Linked DNA regions of Homo sapiens: region 2 is linked to region 1. The links come from fine-mapping of genetic effects on gene expression. Tissue or cell type: whole blood. Region 1 holds a variant in brackets; the other region holds the start of a gene. All regions are shown on one strand. Distances are from middle to middle.

Evidence for each region. PIP is the estimated chance that this variant, and not a neighbour inherited with it, causes the effect.
Region 2: SHMT1 starts here. The variant in region 1 is fine-mapped to the expression of SHMT1 in whole blood (TOPMed, PIP above 0.99).

What each region holds. Positions count from the first base shown.
Region 1 is chr17:18,321,033-18,323,695 of GRCh38, forward strand. It overlaps SMCR8 (SMCR8-C9orf72 complex subunit), which reads left to right. Exons shown (of 2, transcript NM_144775.3): 2 at 1,585-2,663. The coding sequence ends at 2,038. Among named protein-coding and RNA genes, the nearest start is that of SMCR8, 7.1 kb to the left of the region's middle. RefSeq lists a silencer at 457-649 and enhancers at 1,161-1,662, 1,663-2,162. The variant G/A (reference allele first, on the strand shown) is at 1,123.
Region 2 is chr17:18,362,030-18,364,710 of GRCh38, forward strand. It overlaps SHMT1 (serine hydroxymethyltransferase 1), which reads right to left and starts at 1,521. Exons shown (of 12, transcript NM_004169.5): 1 at 1,343-1,521. RefSeq lists a silencer at 1,146-1,615.

The DNA.
Region 1 (2,663 bases):
CATTCTTCATTACAGTGTTAGCTCCCAGGTCAATGTTGGGATGTTATAGATGCTCTGTAAATGATTGTTAAATATACAAGAAGATAAAACCCAGGAAGGAAAAAGTACTGTGAGAGTACCTTGGTCCCAAGTCACCGTCAGTCCTTCTTACACCATACCTGTCTGACGTAAACCCTAAATGTCTGGGCCCTACAGGGCAGTCCCTGCTGCTCTGGGGAAGCTGCTTCAGGAGGGTGTTTAAGGAACCGCTCCCCTCACTGAGTGAACACTGGCTTTTCCTGGCTCTGATGTGCCAGGCATTGGGGGCATGAGACCAGATCAGGTGCAGTTCTGGGACCCTAGAATCTTGGAGCTGCTTGTCCAGTGGGGAGAAGCCAATGAACAAACAGCAGTCACCCCACTGGTCAGTGCTAGGCTAAAAGTAGTGATGGCGATGACAGCAGCGCCTACCGAGGGCCAGCATTGTCCTAAGCACAACTCATTTTGTCTCCACAGCGACCCCATGAGGGATGTAATAGTAGTAACTGGCCTGTACAGTGGCTCATGCCTGTAATCCCAAATCTTTGGGAGGCCAAGGCAGGAGGATCACTTGAGCTCAGCAGTTCAAGACCAGCCTGGGAAACATAGCAAACTTCCATCTCTACAAAAAATTATCTGGGTGTGGTGGCATACGCCTATAGTACCAAATACTTGGGAGGCCAAGGTGGGAGGATTCCTTGAGCCCAGGAGATGAAGGCTGCAGTGAGTCATGATCGTGCTACTGCACTCCAGCCTGCGCAACAGAGCAAGACCCTGTCTCTAAATAAATAAAAACAGTAGGAATGTTATCTCCATCTTATAGGTGAGGCTCAGAGAGGTTAATGAATTTGGCCAAGGTCACAGCAGGAAAGCAGGAGAGGATCAGGGAAGGCTGAATATGCTTTAAATTAAGCTAAGTACAAGAGAGAGAGGTTATTTCAGGCAGAAAGAAGAGGTTTTTTTGTTTGTTTTGTTTTTTAAGACAGAGTCTCGCTCTGTTGCCCAGGCTAGAGTGCAGTGGCACGATTTTGGCTCACTGCAAGCTCTGCCTCCTGGGTTCACAGCATTCTCCTGCCTCAGCCGCCCAAGTAGCTGGGACTACAG[G/A]CACCTGCCACCACACCCGGCTAATTTTTTGTATTTTTAGTAGAGACAGGGTTTCACCGTGTTAGCCAGGATGGTCTCGATCTCCTGACCTCACGATGCGCCTGCCTCGGCCTCCCAAAGTGCTGGGATTACAGGTGTGAGCCATTGCACCTGGCCTGAACAAAGAGGTTTGTAATTCTAAGGCCCCACTGAAAGCTTGCCATGGCTCCAAAAAAGAGTCCATTCAGCAGGAATCGGACCACAAAGGGCTTTGTGGGCCACCCAGCGTGTTTTTGACCTTGGTCATAAGAGTGGTGAGGAGCCCTTTGAAGATTACAATGATCAGATTTGTCTTCCAGGAAGAGCCAGTGCATGCTGGCTAGGTGGATGCTGGCCTGGGGACAGGAGGCCTCACCTCCCAAGCTTCTGCCTCCACTTTCCCGGCCCTTGCCCTTCCTCCTGACCTTGGCCTGTCTGTTTCAGAGTGGCCTCCCCTGCCGGTGCCGGTACCCTCCATGCCCTGAGCCGCTACAGCCGCTACACGAGCATCCTGGACCTTGACAACAAAACCCTGCGCTGCCCCCTTTACAGAGGCACCCTGGTGCCCCGCCTGGCAGACCACCGCACACAGATCAAGCGGGGCAGCACCTACTACCTGCATGTCCAGAGCATGCTCACCCAGCTCTGCTCCAAGGCCTTCCTCTACACCTTCTGCCACCACCTGCACCTGCCTACCCACGACAAGGAGACAGAGGAGCTGGTAGCCAGCCGCCAGATGAGCTTCCTAAAGCTGACCCTGGGTCTGGTGAATGAGGATGTTAGGGTGGTCCAGTACCTGGCTGAGCTGCTGAAGCTGCACTACATGCAGGAATCTCCAGGGACCAGCCACCCCATGCTCAGGTTTGACTATGTCCCCAGCTTTTTGTATAAAATCTGAGGTCGGTCCCAGACACTGTGACCAAGACCTGTGACTCAGGGTATGGGGAGGGGAGGGGTTGGCATGACCAAACAGTTGCCTGAGCTGGACTGTTTAAGTTTCTGGTGTCTGGCAGCATGGTTCCCACGTGGCTCCTAGTAGTTTTTAAGTTGGACATGGGCAGAAGTGGAGCCTGGCTCCCTCTAAAGGCGTCTGGAGGGATGGTGACAGCTACATTTGGCTCCCTGGTGAAGAGTGGCCCCTGGATATGGAGGGGGCCTTGGTTTTCTGAGGACTGGCAGCCAGGGCAGAAGGGAAGCCACCAGTCCCTTGGTGGGGCAGGGTGAGGGCAGGAAGGCCAAAGCCTGATGGGAGGAGCACACTGGCTGTATTCAGCATTGCCGGACACTTGAGTGGCAAAATGAACGAGGGTGACAGCCAGGTAACTGTTGTGGTTTGGTGGAAAACAGGAGGGCAGAACACCCATCGCCTCCTTCAGACCCAGATGCAGCCCTTTATTTGCTTCCTGGAGCCCACTGTCCTAGGGGAGGCCCTGGACCAGCCAGTGGGGGTGAGAAAGGCTGCCACCCTCTGGGTCGTGGGAAACATGCGACCTTGGCCTCAGGGCCACAGAGCGTGAGCAGCA
Region 2 (2,681 bases), 41 kb after region 1:
TGTCACATAAGAGGATCCAGCCAAGGATCTGCTCAGGGAACTAACTTGTTGCACATCTTCTATCTCACACACATTTTGTGTTCTCTTCTTTACAGAAGAGGAAATTGAGGCCCAGGGAGCTAACTTGTCTAAAGCCATATAAGAGCCAGAATCTGAACAATGGTTTCTCTTCAGTTCCAAGGCCTTGTCCCAGGACATTGCACTAAATAAAAACACAATTACCCACTTCCGTTCCAAGTTCCCCCAAGTAATAAATTTACGTTATTTCTTTTCTTTTTTTTCTTTTCTTTCTCTCTCTTTCTTTCTTTTGAGATAGAGTCTCACTCTGTCACTCAGGCTGGAGTGCAGTGGCGTGATCTCCGCTCACTGCAACCTCCACCTCCCGGGTTCAAGCGATTCTCCTGCCTCAGCCTTCCGAGTAGCTGGGATTATAGGTGTGTGCCACCATGGGCAGCCAGGTTTTTTTGTATTTTTAGTACAGACGGGGTTTCACCATGTTGGCCAGGCTGGTCTCCAACTACTAACCTCAAGTGATCCGCCCACCTCGGCCTCCCAAAATGCTGGGATTACAGGCATGAGCCACCGCGCCCGGCCTACAATGTTATTTCTGCAAGAACCTAAACTGGTGTTTCCAGTCTATTCTCTGGGTAACTGCCCGATTGAAGGCCCGCATCTGTGCTGACCTCAGCTGGACCAAGGGTCACTTAACTCCCGGAATCTCGAAGCCAAGGCACCGGGCCAAGAACTTCACAGTGCAACATTTGTCTCCTAGAACAGGGGGTGGCAGATTGCGGGCAACAGGAAGAGCTCATTCCCCACAGGGATCTGGTGGCACGGGCCAAAAGTGGAGCGACCCTGCGCGCAGCCTTTAGGGGCGCAGGCTTTGAGAACCCGGGTTCTATTCCGGGCTCTGCCATTTAAGTTGCCTCCTTTCTCAGGGCCCCACCACCTTCCTCACCTGTAAAATGGGGGAAACAGTAGCACTTGACTTGCAGCTTTGTTGTGAAGGAGCTAGGATTGTTTAAATCGAAAATGCTCAACGAGAAAAGTGTTCAGTGGAGAGCTACTACTCACATCCCCGATAAGCCTTCGCATTCTTGCCAAAGGCCACGGGCCGCCACCCCATCATACCGAATGTGCCTGGAACTGGGGCGCTGCGGCTGGCCGCCGCCCGATCCCCAGCCCAGGCGCGACCCAAGCGCTCCCCTCCCGTCATTGCGGCTGCAGAGGGTGGGGTACGGCGGGGGACAGCGAGGACGCCGAAGCACCCCCCGGGCTCTGGGACGCCGCGGCCCTCGGACCCGAAGCCGCCCACCTACCGGAACACGGCCCGCGCACGTACCTAGCGACGCCTCCGTCCTACGCCGCCGCCGGTGCCACCAGTCCCAGACCCGCTGACCCAACGCCCCGCGCACCGCCGCGGGCCAGCCACGTGACCAGCCGCTCCAACCCCAAACCCCGAACTTGGCGCTGGACCGCTCGAGCTCAGGAAGGTGCACTCTGCGCGCCAGGCTTGGGCTTGGCCCCGCCCCCGGAGGCGCCCAATCAGAGAGCGCAGCCAAGCATGGGCCGCCACCAAACGCACCCGCGCTATTGGCTGCGGCGCAGCGGCGGGCAGGGCCTGTTTCTCCGGGGCGGGCCGGAGGCCGCGTAGTGCAGCTGCGCACCTGGGGCAGGGACCTGCAGAACTGACCCGCTTTGGCTGCAGGGCTGGTGTGTGGACCAAGATTTCCAGGAAGACTACACAGGGCCTTCCTCACTTAAGCCTGTCGCTTGGGCCGTGGGATTATGAGTGAATTTTGTTCATGGTACTACTTTTAGTTTGCAGGGTGGTCATTTAAAGTAGGACAAATGTGCGTCCAAACTGCAACATTATTACTCTGTAGGTGTATAATCCAAGAGCAGACACTTTATTATTATTATTTTTGTTATTTTTTATTTTTATTTTTTTGAGACAGGGTCTCACTCTGTCCCCCAGGTTGAAGTAGAGATGGGGGTCTAACTATGTTGCCTCCCAGGAGGCGGAGGTTGCAGTGAGTCGAGATCGCGCCACTGCACTCCAGCCTGGGGGACGGAGCGAGACAACGTCTCAAGAAGAATAAAATAAGATAAATAAAATACTGACACACAATAAGGACTCAATGAACATTACCTATTGTTAAGAATGATAAAAACCGGGGCCACATGTCAGGACCACCTGAGGCTGCGTCATAAATTTTTTTATTTGTCAAATGATAACAATAATTATTATAAGAATGATAAAAACCGGGCGCAGTGGCTCACCCCTGTAATTCCAGCACTTTGGGAGGCCGAGGCAGATGGCTTGAGCCTAGGAGTTCAAGACCAGCCTGGGCAAAATGGTGAAACCTTGTCTCTACAAATAATTTTAAAATTAGCTGGGTGTGGTGGCAGTCGCCTGTAGTCCCAGCTACTTGGGGGGCTGAATGGGAGGATCACTTGAGCCTGGGAGGCAGAGGTTGCAGTAAGCAATGATCTTGCCTCTGTACTCCAGCCTGGGCAACAGAGTGAGACCCTCATCATCTCGAAAAACAAACAAACAAAAAATACAAAAAAAACTTTTTTTTTTTTTTGAGACAGAGTCTTGCTCTGTCGCCCAGGCTGGAGTGCAGTGGCGCGATCTCGGCTCACTGCAAGCTCCACCTCCCGGGTTCACGTCATTC